2 separate regions of the Homo sapiens genome follow, and region 2 is linked to region 1. Evidence: fine-mapped expression QTL. A gene starts in region 1. The other region holds a variant in brackets. All regions are shown on one strand. Distances are between the middles of the regions.

Region 1 (16,627 bases):
TCCCTTAAGCCCAAGAGACTGAGGCTGCAGTGAGCTATGATGATGCCACTGCACTCCAGTCTGGGTGACAGAACAAGACCATCTCAAAAAGAAAAAAAGAAAGGTCAGTGTTCAGAGCAGGTAGATACTGGTATGAATCTTCTATCGATCAATCAATCAATAATCTATCTATCAGCAAAATTAACTGATAGCTTATTATACCCACTTCATACCCATCTAGGTTCTCCATAGCCCCTAATCTAGTTTAATGCTCACAAAAGTCTATCATTACCACCACATAACAGATGAGAAAACTGAGGTCTAAAGTCACGCAGCTGGTGAGTGTGCGCAACAAGCAAAGCTGAATTTGTCTCCAGTGCTTGTGACGTGCTGGCTGTGCACTTCACACCCAGCACACACTCTTGCACTAACCTGAACACTGTCTGCACTCAGGACTGTTTACATCTCCCTTTTATGATAAGGGAACTGAGACTTAGAGTTGCCAAAGATGAGGAGCTGGTGAGTGGTGGGCAGGATACAGACCCAGGCTGGGCTGACTTCAGAATTCTCTCCACCTTACTCAGGGAGGGAGAACAGGCAGCTGGGATCTGGTTTACATAATAACTCTGTCTGTGACCCGGATAAGTGGAAGGGATGACCTGGTAGCTGGCAAGTGACTCAACTTCTCTGTGCTTCTGTTTCCTATAAATTGGGGATAATAACAGAACCCACGTTCACAAGGCTGGGGTGAGGATTCAGTCAGGCAGACTCTGAAGCCTCAGCTCAGGGCCCTGTCCATCCCAGGGACTGTGTAGTACCCCCGCTTTTAGTGTCTGTTAAGTGCTAGATGTTTCCAGAAATATTTGTGAAATAAATGACTAAATTAAGGTGGATTGGAATAGAATTACAAATGTTTGAGACAACTTAGAGAAAGGGACAATTAAAACATTAGATCGGCTGGAGGGAGTAGCTGGTATACTGACTGGTTAGGCATGGAAATTCAAGACAAGGAAGGTGCAAATGACCTGAGGAAGCTGCCAGTGGAACATAGAGGTAGAGCTGGGACTTGAACTCTGATCTGTTGGATTCTGGGCTCTTGGTCTGAACCCCTGGGCTGACTACGGCCTAGAGAAAGATAGAGCCAGTGCCTCCCTGGCACCCCCTGAGCACAGATGGGGGCGGGAGTCATGCATGTCCCTGAGCACAGCCAGCGCCTGTCCCTTGCTCCAGGGGTGAGAGCCGCTGGCCTGGGAGAGGGGAGGTCAGCTGGGGCCTGGAGCCTGCACTTCAGGGGGAAGTGCTTGCTGTGTCGGGTGAAAGGAACCCTGGGGCCTTCTCCGTTTGGCTCTGCACAGCCATCCAGTGGGCGGCCCTCAGGGACCCTCGATCCAACCTCACCTTTTACAGATGGGCAAACAGAGGCACGGAGCAGGGGCCTGGCTGGCCCAGGGCTGCACGTTCTTGAGCATGCCGTCACGGGCACCTCTCGCTTGTCTCTTGTGCCTGTCAGGGAGTCAGGAGACATCGCCTTCCATCCTGACCAACCGTGTGTCCTTAAGCAAGTGCTTTAATATCTCTAGGCTTCAGTTTCCCTACCTGATAAATGTGGCTACAAGCCCCGTCCTGTTGATAAGATGATGGATGACTAGGGGTGGGTTCCCTACATTCTGACTGGTGCCTAAGTGAGACAGTGGATGGTTTACGTGATTCTTGGTGGCTGGGATTCTTGGGGGCCCAGGGCACTCCTATGCTCAGCACTTCTGTAAAATGGGTGATGGCGAGTGGCCTTGGCCTCAGGGGCCCCAGCCTTTGCAGATCTGCTTTCATGACCAGGCAGCTGGCTCCAGGTCAGAAGCAGGGCACTATTGGCCCAGAGACCCTGTAAGACCCTAGAAATGATGCCTCGGCTTGACACTCCAGTAAAGACTGAGAAAGCTGATTATAAAACCAGGCCTTAGAATAAAATCAAATTCAGCAGCCACAGTCAGCTCCCTTATGGTTGTCTCTTACAGGTTTCATTGGGAGTCACCCATTTAAAGAGGAGGGGGAAGGAAAGAGTTGTGCACTGGTGTATCCATGGGGCCTTGGGTAGCTTCCCATCCCTCTCCAGGCCTCAGTTTCCTCATCTGTGAAATGGGAAAGCAATCCTGTCACTCTAAAAGCTCTCTGGGGATAGCCACATAGACGGTTCCATGGCCCTTTCCTTCCCTCTCCTCACCCTCTGTAGCAAAGATTTCTTGACTTTATAACAAAATACTAAAAGTGTTGTTGCTGTTGGCCTGGGGGCCTGTAGTTGGCCCAGGGGACAGAGCAGCTTCCCAGCCTCCTCTGCCTTCCAGCCGTGTGTGCACAGACAGTCATTCTCCTCCTCCTGTCCCCAGGTGTCCTAACCACCCCCTCTCCAAGAGCTGACTGCCAAGTCCAGTCCTTCTTCTGCTGGGCACACAGAGGCCACACTATCTTTCTGAGGGCCTGCGGAGGACTTTTCATGGGGGATGAGCCTCTAGGGGGTGAAATAAAGCACATGGCCCACGCTGGGAGACAGAGATCCCAGGATGTTGGATGTGTGGCTGCCTCTCTTGGGGAAAGGGTGGGTACCCTCCAACAACTGGACGCTCACCTGAGAAGCCTTGCCAAAGCCAGGGGCTCCCAACCCAGTGTGTGTAAGAATCCCCTGGTGGGGTGGGGGTGGGATCCCAGGGGCTTGTCCAAGAGCAGGTTTCCTGGCTGCTAACATAGGAAGGTGCCATTGAACAGGCCTGGATTCTGCATTTTCCATGAGTCCTCTAAGGCTGTGCTGAGGCAGGGGTTCCCTGACACTGTTCTTTTGAGAAACACAGGTGTGGTGACTTATTCTCCAGGCCCAAGATGGGTTGTACAAGCGCCTAGCATTTCAAAAGGAATGGAGGTGATGGAAGGTCCAGGAGCTGTCCCTTCCTCTGCCTCAGTGTGCTAAGGAGAGCTCCAGACACAGTGGCTGTCACTAACTCTTCCCCCTCCCACCCTGCCCCCAGCAGGTGCCAGGCAGGGCCCCAGGAGAAGGGGACTCAGGCCACAGCAGGCAGAGGACAGCTGAGCTTGGGATCAAATACTGACCTCCAGTCTCCAGGGCTGTGTGTGTCCAGGGGTCCGGGAGGAGTGTCATATGGCCCCTTCGAGCTCTTGGTTCTCAGCTCCGGCGACAAGCCGAGGGGCTGCCACTTTCTAAGTTCCCCGTTTGAAAACAGGAAACAGGCTGTGTGACCTGCTTCTGATCGCCCCAGCCCATTGGCTGGTGAAACATGGTATATTGAACTCAACTGCCAGCCTGCCAGCTGTACCCACCTCTTCTTCCGGGTAGCGCAGGGAAGGGCAAGGCGGTGTGGGGCCAGCCCTGTGGGATTTAGCTCAGCCTCACTTTCCCTGCCGCCTTGCAGAGGTCTGGCTGTCCTTCGAGTCCCCGTTGATCTCTGGAATTCAGGCATTAGCTCCCAGAGCCCTTTAACATTCATTATTCTACTCTATGAGCTAGGCATGATGGGGGCCGTCATGCCCCTTGAACAGATGGGAAAACCGAGGCTTGGATCACAGAGCTGGTGGGACACAGAGCCAGTGACTGACATAGAAGAGCAGTGGGGTAGAATTACAGTTCCATCTGGTGCCTTTTCTCTGAGCAAAGCTGTATCCATCACCACCAACAGAAAGTCCCAGGGAAGCGAAACCCCAGGGCAGTGTGGTGTGATTCATGCCCACCCATCTTTGTGGCCTTGAAGGCAAGAAACAGAAATCAGACAAAAAAAAAAAAAATAGAACTTTGCTGGCTCGCCCAGAAGTTTGCCATGTGTTTTTTTTTGAGCCATGATTCCCTTCCTCCCTATTAGAGGCAGTCACAGTCCTGATTCAGATGGGGGTTACTTCTTGGCTTTTCCTTAGAAATTTACCACCTATGAGATCCCCAAACAATTCAGTTTCATTTTACTCATCTGTGAATCTTATATAAATTGAACCATGCATACTGTGTGTATTCTCCAGTGCCTTGCTTCTTTCATGCAACATTTATGGGTATAAGATTCACTGATGCATTTCTGTGTAGATACTTTTTTTCATTTCCATTGTTGTGTTGCTACATTATTATTATTATTTATTTTACTTTAAGTTCTGGGATACCAGTGTAGAACCTGCAGGTTTGTTACATAGGTATATATGTGCCGTGGTGGTTTGCTGTACCTATCAACCCATCATCTAGGTTTTAAGCCCTGCATGCATTAGGTATTTGTCTTAATGCTCTCCTTCCCCCTGGCCCCCACCCCTGACAGGCCCCAGCGTGTGATGTTCCCCTCCCTGTGTCCATGTGTTCTCACTGTTCAACTCCCACTTATGAGTGAGAACATGCTGTGTTTGGTTTTCTGTTGCTTCATTATTTAAATACATCACCATTTGTCATTTTTTGTTTTGTCTTTTGATGCACACTTGGGTTGTTCCTAGGGTGGCCATCATGATCAATGCCACTGATGATATTCTTACACATTTATCCAAGTCCATGTACTTATCTGAGGTGAAATTGCTGGGTCTCAGAGTATAGATAGCTTCAACTGTGCTAGATTACGCCAAATATTTTCCACAGTGGCTGTGCCATTTTGTATTCCCACCAGCAGTATATGAGAATTCCAGGTGCTCCACCTTCTTACCTGCACTTGATATGGTCATTATTATAATTATTTTAAAGATGGGGTCTTGCTCTATCACCCAGGCTGGAGTGCAATGGTACCATCATAGCTGACTGCAACCTAGAACTCCTGGGCTCAAATGATCCTCCCACCTCAGCCTCCTGAGTGGCTAAGACTACAGTTACGTCACCATGCTTGGCTAATAAATTTTTTTTGTTTCTGGAGGGATAGACCATCATGGCCACTATGTTGCCCAGGCTGGTCTTGAACTCCTGGCCCCAAGCAATCCTCCTGCCTTGGGCTCCCAAAGTACTGAGATTACCAATGTGAGCCACTGTGTCTGGTTTGGTCAGTGTTTTTCAGTGTACCACTGCATTAATGTGCAGTGGTCTCTCATCAAGGTTTTAAGTTGCATTTCCCTAAGGACTAATGATGTTGAGCATCTTTTCATGGGCTTATTTGCCATCCTTATACCTTCTCCAATGAAGTGTCTGTTCAAGGTCATTGCTCATTATTGACTTGATTATTTTTAATGGTTTGTAGGTGTTCTTTATGTATTCATTTGGGTTTATGTGCTTCTCAATATCCTTTTCCATCCTGCAGTTTGCATTTTGTACTCTCTTAATGGAGTTTTGTGACGAATAGAAGTTGTCAACTTTAAAGAACCATATTAGTCCTTTGATATGGTTGAATTTCAACTTTCCTAATTGCAACATGAAATTTAATGAAGTCCTCCTAGTGCCAAAACATTCCGCCTTGAGCCAGTGTCATCCTTGGAGGGCATGAAGGTTTCTCCTGTATTTGCTTCTGCAACAAGCTCATAGGCTTGTGAACCTCAAGAGGAGTTCAGATGAGCCAAACACTTAGAACAACACTGTTCCGAGCTGTACAAGTGCTGGCAGTTCTTACTATTCTAAAACCGTTGCTGCTTGTCTTTTTCATTGGAGGCTCTATAATGTCCCTGTTTACCTATTGACCTTGCTTATTGACATGGCCCTGCAATTCCACCTCTCTGCAGTGCCGTCACTGTCATTAAGAACCTCCACATCTGCAAAGGTCTGTCTCTGGGCAGAGCTCACGAGGAGTGCCATGAGTGGTGTGCCTCTGGCCTGCTAGCTGGGGCACCCCGTAAGTGCAGGGGCCATAGGTCGGTCATCTCCGCCTCCCCCTGCCCAGCAGAGGGCCTGGTGGTGTGGCTCCCTGCATACAGTGAGGCTGGAATGCCCTCTCCTCCCTGGGTTGTGTCCCGTAACTTTCCAGTTTTCTCGCCTACTCTCTGCCCAGGCCTGGAATCTGCAAGACACCAGGGTGGACTCTAAGCCTTTCTCTGCAGCCCTGTGAGCCTCTCATGCTGCAGAAGGCAACCACAGGGGAAAAATGTGTGGTTGCCGCCACTTCCTCTTATGGGGAAAGGAGACGTTTCTTGGAAACCCCCTGATGGAGAGGGGCCTGGCCTATGTCGGTAGGACCCAGCTGAGCCAGAGTGACCGGAAGATGCCACGCATGGCCACCTGTTGGATGTTGCTTTTTCTCTGCAGCCAGAGTTCTCTGTGGTGGAGGCAGAAGGCATAGGTAGTGTCTTAGCTTGGGCTGCTGTAGCAACACACCGCAGACTGGGCGGCCTAAACAACAGACATCTCTTTCCCACAGTTTTGGAGGCTGGGAAGGCCAAGATCAACGTGTTAACAGATTCAGTATATGGGGAGGGTTTGATTCCTGGTTTGCAGATGGCTGCCTTCTTGTTCTATCCTCCCATGGCAGAATGAGGGCTAGAGAGTGCTCAGGGATCTCTAACCTCATGGCCTAATTACCTCTTAAAGGCCTCACCTTTTTCATTAGGAATTCAATATATGAACTATATGAACTTGGAGGCCACATACTCAGTTCATAACAGGCAGACAAGGTCCCATCGTCATGCGGGGGACACAGGAGTGGGCATCCTCCATTGCAGCGCTGAAGCCAGATGGCGAGGAGGGTCACCACGAGGCACCAGGAGTGAGAAAGGGGAAATACTAGTAGTGTCTCAGAATCTGATGCCTCTCCTAGAATTCAAAATCAGAGCACCTCTCCATCTTATTTGGACCCTTCAGTGGCCTCCCACCACATTCAGAGTAAATCCGAACTCTCTGCTGAGGCTTCCATGATCTGCCGCTTACCGTTTGTCACTCGGTCCACTCCCAGTGTCACCTACCACACACCAGCCAACCCAGACTGCTCTCTGTTGCTCAAACGTGCCTTTGTTTTCGCAGTTCCTTCAGCTGGAAATACCCTCCGCTTGGTTTTTCCATCTCTGGCTTATCTCATCTCATCTCATCTCATCTCATCTCATCTCATCTCATCTCATCTCATCTCATCATCTCATCTCATCTCATGAAGCAGCAGCTTCACTTTCGCTCCTCCATGCAGCCTTCTTCTGACCCCTCTGTCGAGATCTGTCCTTGTTTTGCTTATTTGTATACTTGTGCAGTTCCTGTCTCAAATGCCACAATGGCAGGGACTTTGTCTGTATCATTATCTGTGTCTCTAGCACCCAGCACAGTGCCTGCCACATAGTGGGTGCTCAGTAAGTCATTGTGTGCATGAATGAATGGCGGGGTGAATGCAGAGAAGTGGTCACCGAGGCTGTGGCTGCAGCTCAGCCCTGACTCATTGTGTGATTCTGGGCAGGCCACCACCCTGTCTGATTTTTGGCTTCCCTAATTGCAACATGAAATTAAATGATGTCCTTTTACCACCAAAGCATTCTACATTGAGCAAACAATTGAGTACTAGAAGCTACCCCTCACTACCGCTCTGGATGCCTGACATGCTTGGAACTGCAACACTGGTACGCCTTCTTTGAGAAATTCAACAAGAGTGTATCGGTCCCAGGTGTGCCTCTCAGCGCTGGTAGAGCAAACCACAACTGGCCAGGTGTTTTTCGCAGGTGACACAAAATTTGATCTTGTCAATCTTGTTTTTCTGCAGCTGGATGTGCCTGTATAGCTTTTTATTAAATTTCAAAGGTTCTTAATATTGCAGGATTTAAAAACTGGGGTTGCAGACAGAATGCACTGTGGGGCACCGCTGTGGTTATATTGAGACATGGCAGGGTGGGGCTGGGTACAGGCCCATTTATTTCTACATTGCAGGCCGCGGGAGCTTCAGTCACCATTACTGAACTTCCTGGTCTTTGTCAACCTCAGGACTGTCAGAACTGCTGATTGTGTAAAGATTCATGGCTAAGATTAGGAGAAAATCCAACTTTTCTGATCAGGAGAACATACACCTCCCATTCTTGGGACATCTGTTTGGGCAAAGGTGCTGATGAGCAGTTTGGGTGGGGTTAAGGGCCATCAGGTCCATTGTAAATCATTTTAAGGTATGTGCCTTGCACAGAGGACCTAAAAAAGGGCAGCAGTGGGCCGGGCACGGTGGCGGATCACGAGGTCAGGTGATCGAGACCATCCTGGCCAACATGGTGAAACCCGGTCTCTACTAAAAATGCAAAAATTAGCTGGGCATGATGATGCATGCCTGTAGTCCCAGCTGCTCAGGAGGCTGAGACAGGAGAATTGCTTGAACCCAGGAGGTAGAGGTTGCAGTGAGCTGAGATCATACCACTGCACTCCAGCCTGGGCGACAGAGTGAGACTCTACCTCAAAAAAAAAAAAAAAAGGCAGCAGTAATGCTAAAAATCCAGCCCTGGCTCTTCTGTTCCAACCCGGCACTTCTGACCATGCAGATGAAGTTGGCACTTGTGTCCACACATTGGAAAAGAAGAATGATATGGTCTTCTGTGAGTTAATTAATAATGGAGGAGTGAGAAACTGATTTTCAAAGACAACACCCTCAGCCAATGGAACATTTTATTTTGCTGAAGTGGGGTTTGTAAGCTTGGGGCTAGAATGGCAGGGTTTGAGAACAGAGGGGTGATTCTAGAAACAATAAGGCGGAAGGGAAGGAGAGAGAGGAGGCACAGCACGGGGTCTCAGGAGGAGGCTTAGGCAGGGGAGCTGGATTGTGTTTTCAGGTGTCTGATCTTCCTGCCCAATGTACTGATGAGCTTGGAATTGGGTTAGGACCTGAGGTGGGGAAGTGACAGAATGCTGGGTCTGGTCTTGAGGTAGGAATGGGGCAACCTCAGAGGCTGCCCAAGAGATGCAGGCACGTCAGGTTCCCAGGCTGGAGGCTGCTCTGTGGAGAGCTGCCTGCTCCAATGTGTCCTTCTTTCAAGCATTGTCCCTCTGTCAGTAAGTCACCCATGGATAGGGCGCAGTGGCTTACGCCTGTAATCCTAGCCTGGGAGGCTAAGGCAGGCAGATCACCTGAGGTCAAGGGTTTGAGACCAACCTGGCTAACATGCTGAAACCTTGTCTCTACTAAAAATACAAAAATTAGCTGGGCATGATGGCATATGCCTGTAGTCCCAGCTACCTGGGAGGCTGAGACAGGACAATCGCTTGAGCCCAGGGGGCGGAGGTTGCAGTGAGCTGAGATGGCGCCACTGCACTCCAGCCTAGGCAACAGAGTGAGACTCCACCTCGGAAAAAAAAAAAAAGTCACTCTGAAAACAGACTTGGCCAAGCACTGGGCCAGAGGCTGAGGTCCAGCAACAAGGAAGGGACAAGGAAGGGATACCTTGAACCCTCAGAGACTGGTGATACACAGGACGGACACATGGAACTTGGGCCAACAGTGTTGGACCGTCTCGGCTGATGGCCAACAGGAGAACAGGCAGGCTGATCTTTGCAGCTGAGAGGACTGGGAGAGCCCACAGGGACTGTGGGGTCTGGAGAGCTTCCTTGCAGGAGGTGGGCATGGAAGGTCCAGATAAAAGCAGGTAGAGAAGGACGTGGACTTGACTCATAGTCCCACCATTCCATAGCTGGGTCATCTTAGGAAATTCATGATCCTCTTGAAACCTCCGTTTCTTCCTGTCAAAGATGGGGATGAGGAATGGAACCTATTCCATAGAGGTGTTGTGAGAGTACACGGCGTGGCATATGGCAAGTGTTCAATAACATATTCACACTGTGGTGTGCTCACTGTTTACCAGGCACCGAGTCCTAGTGTATGCATCCCTCATGACAAGATCTAAGTGGACTGTCATCCTCACTTAACTGTGAGGGAGACTGAGGTCAAGAGAAATGAAATGACTGGCCAAGAGCATACAGCCGCTAAGGAGCAGGGCTGGAATTCAAATCCAAGTTCGCTGGGGCCAGAGTCCTTGCAGTTGCCACCTGTTGCCTCTGCCTGGGGCACAGAGTGAGCAGAAGCTCACAGGTGGGAGTACTGAGAGCTGCGGGAAGTTGGTGAAGCTAGGGGTGCAGAGATGTGGGGAGGGAAAGCCATTCCTGTCTTCATCCATTTGGGCCAGCTTGTGGAAGTGTTTGGACTTTGGTGAGTGGGCGGGCTGCTTGGAGCAGAGGACCACCAGCGTGGAGACTGCAGCCCACTATGAGGCCGGGTTACCACCACTGTCAGCAGCAGCAGCCGCCGTCGGTCCTGGGCTGAGCTCCTACTATCCAGGCCTGCTGATGGGGGCAGTCCTCGCTCCTGGGGGAAGTGCTCAGGCACAGGCAGCTTCCCGGCCTGGAAGAATTTTGAATGACACAATCCAAGGATTTCTCTCCTCTGAGGCCCGGGGGATTCTGGAAGCATTTTCCCTCCGCCTCTTCTGAGCACTTCCTGCACGGTGCCCATGTCAGAGCACTCAAGGACAGAAATGTCTCCAGGGCATCCCAATTGCCTGTCTCGGCAGAGGGCCCTGCACACAGGGAGTTTTTAATCAATATCCCTTAACTCATTGGAAAGTTTTAAAAAATTATTATTAAACAAGTAAATTATGCTTATTAGGAAATACAGGTTAACACAGAAGAATTTTAAAAGTCCAGTTAAAATCCGATCCTAACTTGTCTTTTAGATGTTTCAATGCATATATTCACACATATCTATTACAGAATTTTTGTATAAAGTATGAGGTAGTAGTCCAAATTCATTTCTTTTGCACGTGGATATCTAGTTTTCCCAGCACCATGTGTTAAAGAGATCATTTTTCCCCTTTGAATTATCTTGGCATCCTTGTTAAAAAACAACCTACTCTTTAAATTTAGCCTTATATTCTTTCTACACAAAGCATTTGGCAGCCCAACTGTTTTTCATTGAGATATAATTCACATACCATAAAACTCACCCTTTTAAGGTGTGTAATTCACTGGTTTTTAGTCCATTCACAAGGTTGTGTAACCATCACCATGATCTAATTCCGGAATATTTTCATCATGCAAAAACAAAACAAAACAAAACAAAACAAAAACCAAACCTCATGCCCACTAGCAGTCACTCCTCATTCCTCCCTCCTCTCAGTTCCTGGCAACCAACAAATCTACTTTCTGTCTTCATGGGTTTGCCTATTCCGGACATTGCATGTAAACGGACTTACACAATAGATGTCATTTTGTGACTGGCTTCTTTCACTTAGCATAATGTTTTCAAGGTTCATTTATGTTGTAGCATTTATCAGTACTTTGTTTTTTTCACAGCTGAATAATATTCCATTGCACAGATAGATCACATTTTCTTTATCCATTCATCAGCTGAGGGACATTTAGTTTGCTTCCACTTTTTCCTCTTATGAATAATGTTGCTATGAACATTTGTGTACAAGCATTTGTGTGCATATATGCTTCAATTCTGTTGAGTATACCTAGGAGTAGAATTGCTGGATCATATGGTAACACCATGTTTAACTTTATGAAGAACCCACAAACTATTTTCCACAGTGGCTTCACCACTTTACGCTCTAACCACCAATGTATGAGGCTTCCAGTTTCTCCACATTATTTCCAGCACTTGTTTTCTGTCCTTTGGACTAAGGGCACCTTTGTGAGTGTAAAGTGGTATCTTATGGTGGCTTTGATTCACATTTCCCTAACAATTAATGATGTTGAGCGTCTTTTCATGTGCTTGTTGGCTACTTACATACGTTCTCTGAACATTTTCAAATCCTTTGCTCATTTAAAAAGTTGTTTGTTATTGAGTTTCAGGAGTCCTTTATATATTCTGGATATGAGTCGTGACTATTTTCTCCCATTCCGTTGGTTGTCTTTTTACTTTCTTGATCATGTCTTTCAAAGCACAAAAGCTTGGAATTTTGATAAAGTCCAACTTATCTATTTTTTTCTTTGGTTGTTTGTGCTTTAGGTGTCAAATCTGAGAAATCATTGCTTCATCCAAGGTCACAAAGATTTTCACCTATGTTTTCTTCTAAGATTTTTATATTTTAAATCTTGCATTTGGGACTTTGATCCATTTTGGGTTAATTTTTGTATAAGGCCTGAAGGAGGAATCCAAATTCAGTTCTTTTGCATGTGGACATCTAGTTTTCCCAGCACCATTTGTTAAAAAGACCACTTTTTTCCCCCTGAATCATCTTGGCATCCTCGTTCAAAAAAGAGTCTACTTTATAAATTTAGCCTTATATATTCTAGGCAGCTTTCTATCTGATAAACATACTTATAGCATCTTTAAAAAATAAATATCTATTGAAATATGACAAGCATAAAGGAAAATATAAATATCATGTGTTTAACTTGGTCAGTTTCACAATGTATTTGCATCAATGCAACCACTATTCAGAGTAAAAATAGGAGATTACTGGCACCCCAGAAGTCCCCTTCACTCCTCCCCTAGTCACTACCTCCAACTTTCTCCCCAGTGGTAGCCTCTATCTTGGCTCCTACCTGTAATGCAGTTTTGCCTGCTTTTGAACTTTATAGAAAGGATACCATTCCGTATGCACGCTCTTGCACTCAGCCTGTTTCACCCAACATTATGTCTGTGAGGCTGCAGTTCTCGTGGGGGTACAGTGATTCATTTATTTTCATTGGTTATTAGAACCACAGCATTATTTTTAGTATATTCACTCAACAAAGATTTATTGCATGCCAGGTCCTGTTCTAGGCCTTGGGAGAAGGCAAGGGACAAAGCAAAAATTCCCTGTTCCCTTGGAGCTCATGCTGTCTTGGGTGAGAGACCAACAACAAAGACAATAAATAAGTAGAATACATAATGTGTTGTGTGCAGATAAGCGCTATGGAGAAAAATACAAAATAAAGCAGGAGAGAAGGGATTGGAGGGTGTTGCAGCTGTACACCGAATAGTTAGGGAAGGCCTTGCCGAGAAAGTCATATGGAAGCAAAGACCCAAAGGAGAGGAAGGAGGGAGCCAGGTAGATTTCTAAAGAAAGAGCATTCCAGGCACAGCAAAGGCAAAGGCCTGAGTGTAACTGCAGGTTTGGCATATTTGAGGAACAGCCAGGAGGCCAGTGTAGCTGGAGCAGAGTGAGTAAGATGAGAGTGTAAGAGGTGGGCAGAGAGGGTGCCAGAGGCCAAACAGCAATTGTAAGGACCTTGGCTTTTACTTTGGGATGGGAGCCATCAACAGAAGAGTTTCAGCAGAGGAGTGATAGAATTTGACTTAAAACAGCAACAACGACAACAACAGCAAAACCAACAGACTCACTCTGGCTGCTGGATTGAAGAAGGGCTGTAGATGGAGGCGTGGAGAATGGCCAGGAACTCCTGCTATCACCCAGGTGAGAGATGATGGAGATGTGGACCCAGGTGGTAATGGTGCATATGGCAAAAATGGGCTGCAGCTTGGAAATATTTGAAGGCCAAGCTGAAAAATTTGCTCCCAGATTGGATAGTGGGGCTGAGAGAAGATGGGTCGGGTTAAGTGTTCTAGGTTCAGATGTTCTGTCAGTTTTCTTAATTAATTTTCTGTTACTGGGCATTAGGGAGGTTTCTAGCTTCTCACTGCTGTAGGCAAGATGGTGGTGAACATCCTTGTAGATGGTTCTGTGCGCTGCCCAGAATGAATTTTCTAGGGTAGATTCAGTCCTTCTAATGCAGCATTTTCCAACCTTGGCTGACTGTGCACCACCTGCACAGGTATTTACTTGAAAGCGGTATGGGGTAGTGGTTAGAGCATTCATCTGTGCCAGAGGCCTGGGGCAAATCCCCATCTCTGGTGCCAGAGGAAAGGGGGCATCTCGAGGCTGGGGAGGCCCCTGGCAGGAGTGAGAAGTCCTGAGGAGCCCGGGCTTCAGGTCTCAGAGGGGGCCACTGTTTTTTGAGTACCTTCCTCTCTGTGGGACTCAGTTTCCCCATCTTCACCATGCCAGTGAGTGGGTGGGTGTAAGTGAGCGAGTCTGCCTGGAGGATCCTACTGCTGCTCTCTGCACCTCTTAGGGGAATCTCCTGCCTCCTCCTTCTCCCTTGGTGGGCGTGAGATCAAAGTTCAAATGTGTACCTCAGTTTCTGCATCTATAAGTTAGAGGCAATAATAGTCAATACCCTAGAGGTGGAAGTAACTGAGTTACTGTCTGTAAAGACTAGCACATGGTAAACACTTTCTAGATGCCAGTTATTTTCGTTATTTTTAAAAATTGACTTCACATTTTTTAAAACAACCAAATATGAGTTTCAAAAGGAACATTTACATTAACATGTTAAATGGAAAACCGGTGTCATTTGCTCCGGAGAACAGAAGAATGTAAAATAAAATATATTTAATGGAAACAAAAACAATGCTATTAAAGCTAATTAGATAGTTTCAGAGCCAAGTAATCTAGGCAGTGCTAGAAAGGTACTCAAACCCTATTAGTACTAAACTGAGAAATAAACTCCATTCAACATAAACGGAAAAACTGAAAGGAAAATGAAAAAAAAGAACCTTAAATGACCAGTCCACTCTTACCTAACATGTAACCTGTCACACTCTGGAAAAGTTTTCCTAGTTTTGGCTGTGTGTGCGTGTGTGTGTGTGTGTGTGTTGGGAAGTGAGGCGTGTGTTGGGAAGCGATGTGTGTGTTGGGAAGCGATGTGTGTGTGTTGGGAAGTGGGGTGTGTGTATATTGGGAAGCATGTTTGTGTGTGTTGGGAAGCGGTGTGTGTGTTGGGAAGTGGTGTGTGTGGGGTGTGGTGTGTGTGTGTTGGGAAGTGGTGTGTGTGTGGGGTGTGTGTATGTGCACGTGTGTGTTGGGAAGCAGTGTGTGTGGGGTGTGTGTGTGTTGGGAAAGCAGGGAGTGTAGTGTGTGTTTGTGTTGGAAAGTGGTGTGTGTGTGGGGTGTGTGTGTGTGTGCACGTGTGTGTTGGGAAGCGGTGTGTGTGGGGTGTATGTGTTGGGAAAGCAGGGTGTGTGTGTGTTGGGAAGTGGTGTGTGTGTGAGTGTTGGGAAGCAGGGTGTGTGTGTTGGAAGTAGGGGGTGTATGTGTATCGGGAAGCATGTTTGTGGTGGGGGGAAGCAGGGCGTGTGTGTGTGTGTATGTGAGTGTTGGGAAGCAAGGTATGTGTGTTGGGGGAAGCGAGGGCTGTGTGTGTATTGGGAAGCATGTTTGTGTGTGGGGGGAAGCGAGGGCTGTGTGTGTGTATTGGGAAACATGTTTGCGTGTGGGGGGGAAGCAGGGCGTGTGTGTGTGTTGCGAAGCGGTGTGTGTGTGGTGTGTGTGTGTGCGCGTGTGTGCTGGGAAGCGGTGTGTGTGGTGTGTGGTGTGTGTGTGTGTGTATGTGTATGTGTTGGGAAGCGGGTTGTTCCGAGGACTCCCCGATTCCCTCCTGGTTGAAACGTGGCCCAGAAAGAGAGGCACACTGGCTAGGGCACACAGCCAGGGCCGTCCAGCCCCGCAGGAAGCCCCGGTCCTGCCCTGTCCCAGGTAAGCCTGGCCAGCCCTGGAGCCGGCGCTGCGGGGCTGCGGGGCTGCGGGGCTGCGGGGCCACGGGACAGGAGCGGGTGCTGCGGTCCCGGCAGAGCAGGGGCGGGGTCCGGGCGGGGGCGGAGCCGAGCGCCCGCGCACCCGGAGCCGCAGCCCGAGCCGGAGCCGGAGCCGGGAGTCGTGGCCCGGAGTGGGCCTTGGAGTCGGCGCGCAGGCGGCTCGCGGTGAGTGCTGTGCCCAGCGCCTGGGGGTGGGCTGGGGGGAGACTGTGGGCGCCGAGGGTCCCACCCCCGGGACTTGAACACTTGGCTTCTGAGCCGTCCTGGCCGCAGGGCTTGGGCAAGGGTTGCCTCGGTTTCTCCTGGGGGAGTCCCAGAATGTAGATGGGAAGTGAGACGGAAAGGGGGCATCTCGAGGTTGGGGAGGCCCCTGGGCCACTCTTTTGATTTCCTTCCTCTCTGTGGGACTCAGTTTCCCCAGCTTCACCATGCCAGTGAGTGGGTGGGTATAAGTGAGAGAGTCTGCCTGGAGGATCCTGCTGCTGCTCTCTGTACCTCTTATGGGAATCTCCTGCCTCCTCCTTCTCCCTTGTTGGGTGTGAGATCTAAGTTCAAATCCATCCCTTCCCAGACAGCCCACACCAGGACCTGCGAGGCCACATCCCCCAGCTGTTTGCTCTCCTATGCTTCTCAGGTTGATGGAGCAGCCATCTGGTCCTGCTTTCATTCCAACAAACTGAAAAGCCCTCCACCCCAATCCCCCTGGGGAGGACCTCCTGAAGCTGCATGAGGGCTGGGGGCTGGACCCCTGCTTCTGAGTTTGCTCTTTCTGAGCCTCTCCTGCCATGGCCTTGGTTTCCCCATGGGCTGTGACCTAGCCTCCTCCAGGGTCCTTGTTCTACAGAGGGGAAACACCTGCCCTGTCACCCTCCCCTGACCCCTTAGTGAAAAAGACCAGAGTGACATCCCCACCACCTGTACTTGCCTGTCCCGATCACTCAGCCATGGGGCTGCTGGGGCCCCTGAGTTTGTTGGCTGCTCAAGGCCCCTTTGCCTCGCTGCACCCTGGGATCTGAGGCTGGAAGCATCCTCATCCAGCCCACCTCCCTCCTACCCAGTGCAGAGCCCCTCTGTGACACATGCCCAGTGGTGGGGAGCTTATTACTGATGAGGTGGCTTTTTAGTGCCTTGCAGCTCTTGTTTCCTTTAGCTAAAATCTGTGGCTTACAGATTCTACACCTTGGTTCCATGTCTGTCTCCCGGAGCCATGCAGAGCAAGTCAGTTCTTTCATTCTTTCCAGCAG
Region 2 (16,627 bases), 69 kb after region 1:
AAGCATTCGCGACCTCAGGAAGCATAAGATACAGCCTTTTAACAAAATAACAGCCTTGCAGATCAAGAGTTATGCAAAATAATTTACAGTCATAATGATACATCAATGATCAAGAAAAAAATAAGGACATTTTCTTGTGGAAAGTGTTGACATGTTAAAAGCATTTTGGTCAAAAAGAACCAACACTTCAGTTTGGTCCTTTAAAGGAATCCAACCAAATTGAGGGGTTGGATAGCTGTTTGGGCAGCCCTTATAAGGAGTTTTGTTTATATTGTGTCAAGATAGAGGTTTCCACAGGTGTCTTATATAAGTGGCAAATATAAATTGATCCCATTCTTGCTGAAGTAGACAGTGCCCTCAAGTGGAATTAAAACAAACACACCACAAAAAAGAAGAAAAGAGAACCACTTCATGCTACCTCTGCTTTTACCCTCACTGAGTGTTACACAGATATTTCAGTCATGTTGGTTTGAAGGAGGTGCCTAACCTGTATCCTGTCTTGGCTAAACCACATGTCTCATGCTGGCTTGTAGAGGGAGAGACTTTTAGGAACGTTACCATTATGGAATACTTCATTATCTAGCAGTGCTTTCTAAAAGAAGTGTTCCACTGTGTATAGATTTGCCAGGTTGTTTGATCATTAAGTGATTAAATCTAAAATTTGGTTCTTTAGGAGTATTTATTTTTTAATTGCTAGAATAAAATAAATATGATAGTGCTATCAATTGCAGCCATTACCCAGAATAATGGAAATGGATACCTCTATCTCAAGGAAGGATGAAATGAAAGTACTGTCTTTGGAAACCAGATAGCCACATTCTTATGACAGGGATACCTAGGAAGTATTGTTTTCAGCAGAAAATTAATTAAAATAATGAAGTAAAGTCTCAGTTTAAATTAATGAAATTGTGTAGTTTTTTAACCATCAGTTAAAATAGGTTTGAGAATGAGCCTACTTCATTGGAAAGATTATTATTCTTGTAAAAATTTTAAATGAGGACCAGGTGCAGTTGCTCATGCCTGTAATCCTAGAACCTTGGAAGGCCAAGGTGGGAGGATCATTTGAGTCCAGGAGTTTGAAACTGCAGTGAGCTATGATCGCACCAATGTACCCAAGCCTGGGTGACAGAGCGAGACCCTGTCTTAAAAATAAATAAATAAAATAAAAATAAATGAAAATTTGAAAAAGAAATAATAGAAAGAAATTATAATGCAGTTATATCATGATATTCCCTTGCTATGTAGTACAAGTTTTGATGCTACAAAATTGATTTTTAAAATATTTTTAATATAGTCATATTATAATATCTGATATTTGCGATTTGAGAAATCAGATAACTATGATTAATGTGATGAACATTGCCCATCTTCAGAAAAAATATATGAAATGAAGTTGAGTCAGAGGTAAAATGTTCCATTATCACAATATGGCCATATCATAGCTATCATTTATAGGCATGAGCCACACAGCTCAGCCCGAAACGCTACTTTTAAAAGTTTATTAGTGTCAGAATATGGGACAGGCCTGGTGGCTTACGACTGTAATCCCAGTGCGTTGGGAGGCCAAGACAGGAGGATTGTTTGAGCCCAGGAGTTCAAGACCAGCTTAGGCAACATAGTGAGACCCTGTCTCTACAAAAAATAGAAAGCTTAGCTGTGTGTGGTGATATGCGTCTATAATACCAGTTACTCGGGAGGCTGAGGTAGGAGGATCACTTGAGCCTGGAAGGTCTTGGCCACAGTGAACTGTGATTGTGCCACTGCAGTCCAGCATGGGCAACAAGAGTGAGACCCTGTCTCAAAACAAATAAATAAAAATAAATTAAAAAAAGTTAGAATATGTATATAAGGGTAATCTTTAAAAGTTTTTACTAGAATCTGATTTTATAAATTTCAGTGTCTTGGAAGCAAACATTGTGTTGTCTTTGAAAGTACTTTACAATTGGATTTCATTAATTAAATATGCACAGTTACAGTAGATAAAAGTAATACAGTATGTATGTCTTTTAGCCCTTTTAGATATTTTTTGAAAATATTTCATTTGTGTGTATGTGTTTACTGGTCAAATGAAAATTTTAAAAGTCTTCAGTCTTAATTTTCAGTCATGTAGAATGAAGTCTAAAGTTTATTTTTGCTTTTTCACTAGGCATTTTGATTTCCTTTCTTTTTACAGCATGGACACCACGTTGCTGAAAACATGCTTTGGGACTGCCACTGAATTTATCTTTTGCGGTTTTATGACAAAGTTATTAGTAGTTTCCCTTTTTTGAATTAGTATTTTGAAGTTAATATCACAATGAGTTCAGGCTTATGGAGCCAAGAAAAAGTCACTTCACCCTACTGGGAAGAGCGGATTTTTTACTTGCTTCTTCAAGAATGCAGCGTTACAGACAAACAAACACAAAAGCTCCTTAAAGTACCGAAGGGAAGTATAGGACAGTATATTCAAGATCGTTCTGTGGGGCATTCAAGGATTCCTTCTGCAAAAGGCAAGAAAAATCAGATTGGATTAAAAATTCTAGAGCAACCTCATGCAGTTCTCTTTGTTGATGAAAAGGATGTTGTAGAGATAAATGAAAAGTTCACAGAGTTACTTTTGGCAATTACCAATTGTGAGGAGAGGTTCAGCCTGTTTAAAAACAGAAACAGACTAAGTAAAGGCCTCCAAATAGACGTGGGCTGTCCTGTGAAAGTACAGCTGAGATCTGGGGAAGAAAAATTTCCTGGAGTTGTACGCTTCAGAGGACCCCTGTTAGCAGAGAGGACAGTCTCCGGAATATTCTTTGGAGTTGAATTGCTGGTAAGTTTGATAAACCATTTTAGTAGTGTGTTTGTTTGTGTTCATGTGTGTCTGTGTATTTGTATGCACATACATATTTTTCTCCTTAAATACGAAATAAATTTTCCCAAGAGTCTTCTGTAATTTTTAATATTCATCATCCTTGCTGATGAATCCATGTTGTGGTTGAATCCATAATCCAAAACTTGCTTATAGTTGTCACTGATAATATGTGTGAAAATCACCTTGGCGTTTATTTCTGTTGGAAAGAGACCCAAGAACTCTGTGATATGTTTCCAAGCTTAATATTCATTCTTGAGAACTTAAATGTCAATTATATTTTGACATTCTTGCAAATAGAATTGTATGCCTTCTTTGCTTCTTGATTTAATTTCTTTTGTTTACTTTTTAATGATGAATTGCGAAGATGTAAAGATGATGTCGAAACTTAAAAAACTATGTACTATGGTAGGAACATACAAAGAGATTCACCTGGCTATTGCAGACATATATATTTTAGAAATTTTAACATTGCCTGTATTAAACATGAACGCTACCAGTTGTAAATAGTTACATAAAAAATTGTTAATTACCTTGCGTTATCATCTATAGGTTTCTTAGTTCTTCTTAATGTATGTTATTAAATAACAATTTAGATATAAGATTTTTGAAAAAAAAGTTGCAGAAATTTAAACTTGCTTATAATTGTCCCCGATAATATATGTGAAAATCCTTAGAATTTATTTCTACCGGAAGGAGACCCAAGAATGCTGTGATATGTTTCCAAACTTAATATTCATTCACAAGAACTGAAATGCCAATTACATTTTGACACTCTTGCCAATAGAATTGCATGTCTTCTTTGCTTCTTGATTTAATTTTTTTTAAAAGCAGTGATTGTAAACAATTAGGAATTTGAATCCCAGTTAAGCCATTTACTAGCTGGGTTGCCAGGTTACTTAACAAAGCTACTTAACTTCTCTCATTCTGCATCCTTACCTGTACAATGGTGTTAATAGTACATGACTTGTAGTGTTTTTGTGGTACATTGATGCAGGATTTAAGCACAGTGACTGACAATAAGTGCTTAATGAATGGAGCTAACATTACTGCTATTTTAAAGTAACATTTTCTTTTTATAACCAAATTAATGTTAGAATCACAACGTGGAATTCAGCCTAGCTTTCTCATGATAGAGTTATGAATTGAAATTATCAGATAATATTATTTCAGCATCAGATACAACTTCTTATTTTTTAAAACACTCTAAATCCAACAGAAACTGCTAATAATTGTATTTCTTATTATATGTATCATTTAGAAATTTTCCAGAGTGATTTTCCTGAAATCCCTAGAGTGAACCCCTTTTCCTATGGATCGTCTTTCTATATCTATTTCTTTCCCTTCTCTCTTAAAAACTAGGAAGAAGGTCGTGGTCAAGGTTTCACTGACGGGGTGTACCAAGGGAAACAGCTTTTTCAGTGTGATGAAGATTGTGGCGTGTTTGTTGCATTGGACAAGCTAGAACTCATAGAAGATGATGACACTGCATTGGAAAGTGATTACGCAGGTCCTGGGGACACAATGCAGGTCGAACTTCCTCCTTTGGAAATAAACTCCAGAGTTTCTTTGAAGGTTGGAGAAACAATAGAATCTGGAACAGTTATATTCTGTGATGTTTTGCCAGGAAAAGAAAGCTTAGGATATTTTGTTGGTGTGGACATGGTAAGAAAATTTTGGATTAAATATCTTTGTGATATATATATTAGTTTATATATATATGTATATATATATATAAACATATATATACACACATATATATACACACATATATATGTATAGTTTATATATATATGTATTAGTTTTAGGACCAATTTACTTGCAAATTGAACACTTTGAATATTTAACATGATCTAATTTGGAGTACTTTAAAGAACATGTTCTAATTTATCTTTGGTAAAGGAGCATTGAAATAGAACAGGGGTCTAGATACAGATTACATTTACTTTTTTTTCCCATTTGAATAAACTAGAATAATGTTCTCTATCTTTAAATTTGCCTTATTGTAGCTGACCAGTAGACAAAACAAAACAAGACAAAACACAATTATATTACTTGAAGTCCTATTTTTCTTTATTTTGAAACAGTTTTTTGGGGTACTCCATTTTTTTGTGATATTCTACACAATTTAATGGCTGATCTGATTTTAATAATTAGTATAATAATCATTTATAGAAAATACCTGAGTAGAGGAAAACCACATTGATTTTGAGGAATAGACAATCAGAATATCTCATAGGATTTCATTCATTTTAAAAACCTTTTTTAATTGTGGTAAAATATACATAACAAAATTTATCACTTAAGCATTTTTAAGTGTGCATACAGTGGCATTAAGTGTATTCACATTGTTGTACTGTCACCTGTTCATCTCCAGAACTTTTTCATCATCCCAAACCGAAACTCTGTGCCTGTTTTAACAGTAACTGCCCACTTTCCCCAACCTCTGCTAACCACAATTTCTTCTGATTTCTCTGTCTGAATTTGCCGGTTCTAGGCTCCTCATAAGAGTGGAATCATACAACATTTGACCTTTTGTTTGTGTCACTTATTTTTAATGTTTCCTTACAATCATACTTTTTAATAATGGATCCATTCCAGTGTGGTTCATTGGATTATACCTGTGGCACTGAAAGAATAAGAAGAGAAAGGCTGAGACCATTTTTATCATATATTGAACATATGGGCAAGACTTTGTTATGTATAAAGAAGGAAATTCATATGGAATTACTGAACACTAGAATGAGTTAGGAGGCGATGTGAGTAGTAATCTCTTATACTCACAATGGGGATGCTTTTAGTCATCATTTTTATCTGCTCAGGTATACTTTTTGGTTGGTAAGGTAATGTTCTAGTGTAATGGTTTCCTGTGCTTGAAAATTCCAGGAAATTCTATCTGATACTCATTGGTTAGTTACTAAACAAACGTTTACTCTTAACATGTGAAAAGTTAGAACCAGAGTAAAACATGTATGCCCCTCAGGATAGCTGACAGTAAAGCACTCCTTTTAACCAATATTCTTTAAATAGTAATTCAGTCTTTATTTCAAGGAGAATTGTGGCCTTCATGGAGGGAAGATTGGAGAAAGAGGGCCACTGGTCATTGGGGTTGGTCTCCCCTTGCATCAGGCTCTTTACCTTGGGCCTCAAACTTGGCAGAAGCTGTTTAGGGTTTAGGCCTTGCCTTTTTCAGATGGCGGTCTGGGGTCAGCTTGTTTACCTGAGGCAAGCTGCCTAGAGATTTGCCCTGCCAGCTTCTCTCCTTGCCTCCATCTGTCCCATAGCTGACTTGTGCAGATATTCATTCCAAACACTTCTATTATAGTCCTTAAGAGGAAAGTTCTGGCAAATGCTAGAACTTCTTTCTTTATCTCCTTTTCCTTCTATTCATCCTTTATTTCCAGGGACATTTTAGCATGCCATGCACATTGGTGCCCAGGGCAGTTGTCTGACTGGCCCGTCTACTGATGTAGTTCCCTGTACAGCACAGTGCTAGTTGGCACTATATTAGAATATCAGATAATTAAATATAAACATCTCCATCTTGGAGAAGATTCCTATATGCTCATAAATGACAAAAGAACAATTAGAAAATAGACTTTTTATGTACAGAAAGGCATACAGAAGTTCAGATGGACTATTTAAATGCTCAGGGAATATGAAGAACTTAGGGCTAATTAGAGGCAGGTTTCTGGGTGAAATAATATATTATTAATGAAACTTCCTGTGCAAAATACTGTCTTTTTAAACCTCAAATGGGTGTTATCCTACAGATTAGTATTTATTGTTCAGTAAAGTATGAAAAAAACACTTTCAATTCTTTGCTTATCTGGGGGTTTACTATCACTTGGTTATTCTTGAATCTCATTTCCCTAAAGAAAAAAATGAACAAACCAATGAAAAAAGCAAAACCTTATTACTATGGCAACTATTCCTAATGTATTCTTTCTTTCTTTTAGGTAAAATTGTTAACATTTACCAATGTAAAATATTTTGGAGGATTCTTTATGGAAAATACAGACTTCCACATTTACATTTCATTGAGGAGGATTTTAATGTTTATTATTTAATTTCTAGGATAACCCTATTGGCAACTGGGATGGAAGATTTGATGGAGTGCAGCTTTGTAGTTTTGCGTGTGTTGAAAGTACAATTCTATTGCACATCAATGATATCATCCCAGGTATGTTTTCTTTGTTTTATACATTTATAAGGCAAACTTTATTTTTTAATTTTTTATTTTTTTATATCAATATGTTTTGGGGGAACAGGTGGTGTTTGGTTACATGGATAAGTTCTTTCGTGGTGATTTCTGAGATTTTGGTGCACCCGTCACCCGAGAAGTATACTCCGTACCCCATGTGTAGTCTTTTACCCCTTGCCACCCCCCATTCTTTCCCCCTGAGTCCCCAAAGTCCAATGTATTATTCTTACACCTTTGAATCCTCATAGCTTAGCTCCTACATATAAGTGAGAACATACAGTGTTTGGCTTTCCATTCCTGAGTTATTATACTTCTCTTAGAATAATAGCCTCCAATTCCATCCAGGTTGCTGTGAATGCCATTATTTCATTCCTTTTTACGGCTGAGTAGTATTCCATGGTGTATGTATATATATACACACACACATATGTATATATATATACGCATATATACATATACACACATATATGTATACATATATACACACATATGTATATATACACACATATATACATATACACACATATATGTATACATATATACATATATATGTATATATACATATATATGTATATATACATATATATGTATATATACATATATATGTATATATACATATAGATATGTATACATATACACACATATATACATACATATATACACACATATACACATGTGTATATATACACACGTGTACATATGTGTGTATATACACACGTGTACATATGTGTGTGTATATACACACGTGTACATATGTGTGTGTATATACACACGTGTACATATGTGTGTATATACACACATATGTGTACTACATTTTCTTTATCGACTTGTTCATTGATGGGCATTTGGGCTGGTTCCATATTTTTGCAATTGCAGATTGTGCTGCTGTAAACGTGCATGTGCAAGTATCTTTTTCCTATAATCACTTTTTTTCCTTGGGTAGACTCCTAGTAGTGGGATTGCTGGATCAAACGCTAGAGCTACTTTTATCTTTAAGGAATCCCCACACTGTTTTCCACAGTGGTTGTACTAGTTTATATTTCCACCAACAGTGTAAAAATGTTCCCTTTTCACCACATCCATGCCAACATCTATTCTTTTTTGATTTTTTGATTATGGCCATTCTTGCAAGAGTGAGGTGGTATCACATTGTGGTTTCGATTTGCATTTCCCTGATAATTGATGATGCTGAGCATTTTCCCATATGCTTGTTGGCTATTTGTATATCTTCTTTTGATAATTGTCTAAAAGTGGGCTAATGTCCTTAGCCCATTTTTTGATGGGATTGTTTTTTTCTTGCTGATTTGTTTGAGTTCTTTGTAGATTCTATATATTAGTTCTTTGTAGGATGTATAGATTGTGAAGATTTTCTCCCACTCTACTGATTATTTCTTTTGCTGTGTAGAAGCCTTTTAGTTTAATTAAGTCTCATCTATTTATCATTTTTGTTGCATTTGCTTTCGGGTTCTTGGTCATGAAGTCTTTGCTTAAGCCAATGTCTAGAAGGATTTTTCCAATGTTATCCTCTAGAATCTTTATGGTTTCAGGTCTTAGATTTAAGTCT[T/C]TGATCCCTCTATAAGGCAAGCTTTCTAATATATATTTTGAGTACATAAATGTAAGCTTCAAGATATATTTTTAGAACTTGACTTTTATATTATGGAATTGTTATTAAATAGGATATCCTTTACCCTCAAATGAAAATAATTAAGATTTTTGTTTCCAGACGTATATGAGTATAAGGGTGGCATTAATATGTTTTCATTCACTTTTTCATCACCTGTCCATTCTTAGTGGGGGAAAAACCCTTCCTGTTAATTAGAAGGATCGGAAAATGTAATAAACTGCTACCTGAGTGAGAGCTTGGTTTAAACTAGAAGGCTTTACACAGACATTGGTCATCTAATCTAATCTAATGTACTGTGGAGAAGATTCTTGCTGGATAACCTGTGAGATCCCTTTTAGTTTTGAGAAGGTGTGATTGATCAGGGATCAGGACTCTAGTCAGAAATAGATTGCTCAACTTTACATTTAGAAGAAAAATCAAGCAATCTTTTATTTTGCCTCTAACAAGTAGCACCTAGTGTCTGCTGTCAGGTAATTGACAATTTCTGTTGATAACAGCATCAACAGTTTCATCCCCCTGCTGTTAGTGGAACTCTCTGTGATACAGGCTAGTGCAATAAAGCCAACAGTGGCAGTCAGAGATGGTGATTCTCATTGAGCATTATGCAAGTCTGATTAAAATGTCAGAAGGCCTGCAGGCAGACTGTAGCCAGGAATGTACCAGGCCCTGAGTTAGACGACTTAATACTTTTTTACATTCTTAACAAACTTATAATGTAAGTCTTAATGATCCCCATTTCGCTGATAAAAAGCTGGGGCTCGGATGGACAACAATTACCAAAATCAAAGTAAATAGTAGAGCCAGAATTTAAATCCACACCTGTCTGATTAGAAAGCTGTGCTCTTTTCAGTACCTCCCCACCCCAAATCCTATCTGTATATTTAGGATGTGAAGACCTGCATAGAAAACCATACTTCTCAGTCTCACATGTATACTTGGGAATATTGTTTCCATGGAGATATATTTTGTCTCTAATTCTATAAAAGCTGAATTTTGCTATAGCAAGGATCACAATTGAATAAGCAAACTGAATTGTTTTTTTTTCAGGTCATTTCAGGTCCTCAGTTTCTTTTGTTGTAAAAATGAAAGGGCTAATACTAGATGATTCTTAAGGTTCCTTTTAGCGTGCACTGTTTGCGCTTCCTGTTTTCCTGTTGCTGAAGCAAGTAATCAATGCTTGTTTTTCAAGTTAGGGCATGCTTTCTGCTTTAGTTTTTAGCTTTACAGCAACAGCACATTAATTTAGTTGGAGGTATAGGATTCAAATGATAGCTTTATTTCAATTTTACTTCTTCAAAGTGTGACATACTTTGCTTTACTTGATGTTTGTAAAATCAATTTTTAATTTATTGCAAATTGAATTCCTAGCTATTTTTTATTTTGCTTCCCTTTGGGAACAAATGATTTACATTCAGGAAAAAGCATATATGTGCTTGATATTTTACTTGGCAAAATTTAATTTAGTTTTTCATGATTTTTTTTTTTGAGACGGGGTCTCGCTTTGTCGCCCAGGGTGGAGTGCAGTGGCGTGGTCTCTGCTCACTGCAAGCTCCGACTCCTGGGTCCACGCCATTCTCCTGCCTCAGCCTCCCGAGTAGCTGGGACCACAGGCGCCCGCCACCACGCCCGGCTAATGTTTTGTATCTTTAGTAGAGATGGGGTTTCATCGTGTTAGCCAGGATGGTCTCAATCTCCTGACCTCATGATCCACCCGCCTCGGCCTCCCAAAGTGCTGGGACTACAGGCGTGAGCCACTGCGCCCGGCCTAGTTTTTCATGATTGTTAATGGAGATAATACAATTTATTTTATGAATTAAAGTACTTTTAAATATTATAATAAATGCTTATGGTTTACAAAACAGTTTAATAAAAGGCCATTCCTTCATTCAAATATTATTAAGCCCTTACCTAGATGTTGGGGATATAGTAGGAAGCAAAACTGGTAAAAATTCTTCTCGTGTGGAGTTTTCATTCTAGTGAGTGGAGACAGACAGTAAATATGTAATGTGTATGATCAATTACATGATAATAAGATGAAAAATGATAAACACAGTGAGGAGGAAGGGAGCACTAGGTTGTAGGGCGGGATTTTTCGATTTCATGTAGGGTAGTTCTGATAAACCTTCTAATAAGGTGACATTTGAGCTGTTGACATGAAGGAAGTTTGGGAGAGAACATGTGGATTCCGAGGGAGAGCCCAAGGCCGCAGCCAGCGTGGCCAGTTTGAGCAATGTGAAGAGTTGACTGTGGCTGCGGCAGATGGAGTGAGGGAGAAAGTTGTAGGAGCCGCAGTGGGAGCTGGAACAGGTAGTGCTCAGTGGGCTGTTGTGTGGATTCTTGGCTTTCATAGTGACAGAGGTGGGGAGCTATAGGTGGGTTTTGAACAAAGGACAACTCACCCTAATTTGCATTTTTAAATGATCTCTCTGGCTGCCTGTTAAGAATAAACTAGACAGAGGACAGAAACAGGGAGACCAGGAAGGAGACTGTTGTAGTTATCCACGTGAGAGACGGTGGTGGCTGGGACTGGGGTGGTATGAAGAGGATGGTAAGTGAAGGATTTGGATATAATGTAAAGATCCCATCAAGATTTGCAGATGGGTTGGGTGTGAGGTTTGAGAGAGAGAACAGAATCAAGGATGATTCCAAGGTTTGGACTGAGCAACTGGTAGGCTGGAGAGGCAATTTACCCAGGTGGGAAAGACAACAGGAAGAGCATGCGTCGGGGAGTGGGAGTTGGAAGTCAGGATCTTGGTTTTGATCATGTTAAAATTGAGTTAGCTATTAAACAATTTCATTTGAATGTTTATGTTAATATTATACGAATTCATGTTTAATCCTTAAAAATGGGCAATGTGCTCATCATTTTCATATTTAAGAAACTTTTGGCTGGGTGCAGTGGCTTATTCCTGTAATCTCAGCACTTTAGGAAGCCGAAGTGGGCAGATCACGTGAGGTCAGGAGTTCGAGACCAGCTTGGCCAACATGGCGAACCCCCCCGTCTCTACTAAAAATACAAAAATTAGCCAGGCGTGGTGGCGGTCACCTGTAGTCCCAGCTACTCAGGAGGCTGAGGCCAGGAGAATCGCTTGAACCTGGGAGGTGGAGGTTGCAGTGAGCTGAGATTGTGCCATTGCACTCCAACCTGGGTGACAGAGCGAGACTCCATCTCAAAAAAGAAACTTTTTACTGTAGAATGTATTTGCAAAAGTATATATAACAACATATATTAAGAATAATAATGAACACTCATGAAACTGACCATCTAGGTTAAGAAACAGAACATTAGAAGTACCTTGAAAACCACCTGCAATACCTTGTTTTCATTATAATTGCAATCTCTCCCTAGAGGTGACCATTATTCTGATTTTTTCATTAATTATTTCCTTGCTTTTTATAATTTAATTATATCTCTGTAGCTAAACAATATACTGTTTAGCCTGCTTTTGAACTTAATGTAGTTAAAATCTTACTGATTTTTAAATTACTTGCATCATTTACTTAAAATGTATTTTGAGATTCTTTTCTGTGGATGAGGGCATTAGTAGTTTGTTCACTCTCACTGCTTCATAGTATATTTCGTCATGTGACTATCCCACAGTTTGGTGCCCATTGTAATATTAATGGACGCTTGGGTTTTAGGTTGTTTCCACCTCCTTTTCCACACTTGGTACTGATTAAAATTTTTGCCAGCCTGACAGCTGAGAAATGGTATCTCAAGGTGGTTTAAAAGTTTGTAGTTCCCTGATTACAAGTAGGATTGAACAGCCTTTTATATGTTTATACAACATTTGTGTCTTCTATTAAACACGTATTTTTTGCCTGTTTTTCTGTTGAGTTGCTCATTTATTGATTCATGAGTTCTCTAGTTTTAGAATTTTAATAAAACATCTTTTAATGTTTTGTTATGACATTTTAAACAGAAAAACTGAAAATTTTATATTGAGCATCCTTATGCATATCATCTAGATCCTACAATCAACATCTTACTTGCTTTATATGTATCTGTCCACCTCTCTATTCACGTACTTATCCGTCACGTTTTCTTGTGCATTTCACATTAAGTTGCAGATACCAGTTCACTTCCTCCTAAATACTTCAGTGTGCATCTAATTAACTAGAGATAAGTATTTAGGGTTTTCTTTTTCATTTCAGATAGAAGTCACACATATAATGACATACATATGGATTTATTTGGGTTCTAACTAATATATATATACCCTTGAATTAGAAACCTCTATCAAGTTATTAAAACAATTTTAAGAAGAAATCATTCATGTATCTCAAATCAAAATTAAAAAGTACAATAAAATATCTCATTTCCATTTTTATCCCCTCTGCCTCAGTTGCCTGCTTACTCCATCCTTCGTTTCTCACTAGTCACAGTTTTTATGAATTTCTTATATATCTTTCCAGTGTTTCTTTATACAATATAAATATTCTTATTCCCCCTTCCCTTTTAATTCAAGAAGTGTAGTAGATACACTATTCTGCTGTTTGCTTTATTCTCTTAATTTTATATGTTAGAACTCTTTGTATATTTGCAAACAGAGGTTCTTGTTTTTTATAGTGTATAATTTTCCATTGTACGGAAAAAAATTTCATAATTTATTTAACCAGTTTCCTATCAATGGACATTTGGGTTGTTTCTGACTTTTTGATATTGCACACAATGTTACCGTAACCTGTACATGTCTGTTTCCCACATGTGCTAGCATATCTGGAGGATATATATATTCCCAGAAGTGGAGTTGCTTGATGAAAGGGCGTATGCGTTGGTATTGTTCTGGATATTGTTAATTGCCTTCAGTCGTAGATATAACAATTTATATTCCTGCCAGTAGAATACAAGGGGGAACTTATAGCTTTCCCATGAGAGTGTGTTACTAACTTTTTTCCCAATCTGATAGATAAAAAATATATTTCAGTGTATATAATACATTTGCAAATAGAAATTTGCATTTCTCTGAGTGATGTTGAACATTTTTGCATATGATTAAGGGCAATTTTTCTTTCTGTGAACTGTTTGCATCTGTTGCCTATTTTTAAATTGGGTTAGGTTATTGGCCTTTTTTCTCACTGATTTCTTCATGTGTTAGGGTGGCAAACTCTTCTGTGATGCGAGATGCAAATGTTGCCCACTCTTCCACCCTCATTTGTCATTTGTCTTTTTTTAAAATTGCTTATTTTTCTGGTCACCCTCATTTGTTTTTATTGTGGTAAAATATACCTAACAGGATGTACCATTTTAACAATTTTTAAGTGTATAATTCAGTGTAAGTATGTTTACAGTTGTGCAACCATCACCACTATCTATTTCCAGAAATCTTGTTCATTATCCCAAATAGAAACTCTATACTCATGAAGAGATAGCTGCCGGTTCCTCTTTCCCTCCAGCCTCTGCTCATCTCTGTTCTCTGCTCTCTGTCCTTATGACTTTGCTTACTCTGGGTATCTCATATTAGTGGAATCATACATATGTCCTTTGGAGCTGGTGCATTTCACTTGGTGTGATGTTTTTGACTTTGGTGCTTTTTGCCTTGCAGGATTTATAAAATTTTTATGCTGTTGTATTCTTTTAGTTTTAATAGATTCTGGATTTTGAGTTACTGTAAGGTTATAAAGGAATTTCCCTGTGTTTTCTTCTAGTACTCTGTGGTTTTAGTACATATCTCTATATCTATCTATCTATCTATCTATCTATCTATATCTTTGACCCATTTCTGTTTTATGTGGTATATGATGTGAAATATAAATCCAATCTAGTTTTTATTTTTGCCCACAGGTAGAAGATACCCTGTTGTCTTAGTATCATTTATTAAAAAGTCCCTCTTTACTGGTTTGAGAGGCCACTTTCATCATACTAAATTTCCACGTGTAGCGTGGTATATTTCTGGACTTTCTATTCTGTCTTCCCACGTTTCAATACCACATTGTTCTTAATGATTTTTAAAAAATTGTATATATTCATGGGGTACAAGTGTAATTGTGCTACACTACTGTATTGCATTGTGGTGAGGTCAGGGCCTTCAGCACATCCATCACTGGAGCAATGCACATTATACCCACCAAGCAACCTCCCATCATCCACCCCCCGCCACCCCAAGCCCCCTTTATTCATCTTTCCACACTCTGCTTCCACGTGTGATTCTTTATGTGTTTTAATATTATTAACACTAGTCTCCTCTCACTGTTCTTTTGAATTTTCCTGTTCTATACTGTTTTCAAAATAGTAGTCTTCTTGATAGTTTTGCGTTTTTACATTTAAGTGTGTTATTCACTTAGATTTGGTTTTGAACAGGATATGAAATATGGGTACAGATATCCAATTTGACCTTCCATGCTTGCTGCGTATAAATCAAGTTTCCAGATGTACACGTGTGGATCTTTCTGAGCCCTGTCATTTCCCTACACTAAAGCCTATCCATAGCTTTAGAAGTCTTGGTAGCTGTGAGAGTACATTTCCATTGTTTGTTTTCTTAATGAATGTCTTGGCTATTGTTAGCCTTTGGGCTTCATTGTAAGTTTAACTATCAGCTTCTCAAATACTATAAGAGAGTTCTGTTAGGATTTTGGAATTGCAATTAATCTGTAGAACAATTGGAGGAGAATTGACATTTCTATGATATTAAAACTTCTAATATATAAACCTTGTGTATCCTTTCATTTATTTAATTTCCTTTTGGTAAAATTTTATAATTTTCTCCATGAAGAGCTTACTTGCATTTTGATGCATTATAAAGCATATTTTCTAACAGTGTCATGCTGATGTAGAAATACAATTGACTTTTTTTTTAGAAAACAGCTTTACTGAGATCTAGTTTATAATTCACTCAGAGTGTACAAATCAGTGCATTTTAGTGCATTTACAGACATGTGCAATTGTCAAGATAATTTTAGAACATTTTCATCACCTCTAAAAGAAACGCTGCACCCCTTAGTGATCATCTCCCAAACCCTTCATCCTTGTTTAGTCCTAAGCAACTACCAGTCTACTTCTGTCTCTGCATATTTGCCTTTTCTGGACATTTCATTTAAATGGAATCACATTATATGTGGTCTTTTGTGATTTACTTTTTTCACTTAGCATAATGTTTTCAAGGTTCCTCCATGTTGTAGCATGTGCCAGAATTTCCGTCCTTCTTAAGGCAGAATAATATTCCATTGTATGGACACATCACATGTTGTTTATTAATCAGTAGATAGATATTTAGGTTTTTTTTTCACCTTTTGGCTAAAATGAATAATGCTGCTACAAACATGCATGTACAAGTTGTTGTGTGGACATATGCTTTTGTTTCTCTTGGGTTTATATCTAGGAGTGGAATTGCTGAGTCATATGATAACTCTATGTTTAACCATTTGTGGAACTGCCAGACTGTTTCCCAAAGCAGCCACACCATTTTACATTCCTACTAGCAGTGTGTAAGCGTTTTGGTTTCTTCATGTCCTTGTCAATACTTGTTATTATCTGACTTTTTTATTCTAGCCATCCTAGTGGGAATGAAGTCATTTTCAATTGACTTTCGTGTGCTGATTTTTCTTACAAACAGACTTACTAAAATATCTTATTCACAATCCATGGATTACTTATAAAATATTCAGTCATTATAGTTTGCACATAATAACAGTTTTGCCTCTTCTGAATTCTTTTATTTTTAAAAATGGTTTCTTACTGTCCTAGCTAGGACCTCTAAATACAATATTGAATAGAAGTAGTGATGGAAGGCATCTTGGCCTTTTTTTCTGATCTTAAAGAAAATGCTTTCAACATTTCATTATTAAATGTGATGTTTGCTATAGAGTTTTATTGTTGTATCTGTCATTTATCAGGTTAGAGAAGTTACCTACTGTTCCTAGTTTTCTAACAGTTTTATCATGAATTGATGTTGAATTTTATCAACCCCTTTTTCTCTATTGAGATAATCCTATTTTCTTTTAATCTGCTAATTTTCTTATA

Evidence for each region. PIP is the estimated chance that this variant, and not a neighbour inherited with it, causes the effect.
Region 2: its variant is fine-mapped to the expression of SNX20 in whole blood (TOPMed, PIP above 0.99).

Annotation. Positions count from the first base shown.
Region 1 is chr16:50,678,115-50,694,741 of GRCh38, forward strand. SNX20 (sorting nexin 20) reads right to left here and starts at 3,198. Exons shown (of 4, transcript NM_182854.4): 1 at 3,076-3,198. NOD2 (nucleotide binding oligomerization domain containing 2) reads left to right here and starts at 15,492. Exons shown (of 12, transcript NM_001370466.1): 1 at 15,492-15,548. RefSeq lists enhancers at 5,902-6,251, 16,092-16,141, 16,382-16,461 and a silencer at 15,212-15,721.
Region 2 is chr16:50,747,403-50,764,029 of GRCh38, forward strand. CYLD (CYLD lysine 63 deubiquitinase) reads left to right here. Exons shown (of 19, transcript NM_001378743.1): 3 at 2,174-2,800; 4 at 4,202-4,504; 5 at 6,917-7,022. The coding sequence starts at 2,297. Among named protein-coding and RNA genes, the nearest start is that of CYLD-AS1, 13 kb to the left of the region's middle. The variant T/C (reference allele first, on the strand shown) is at 8,608.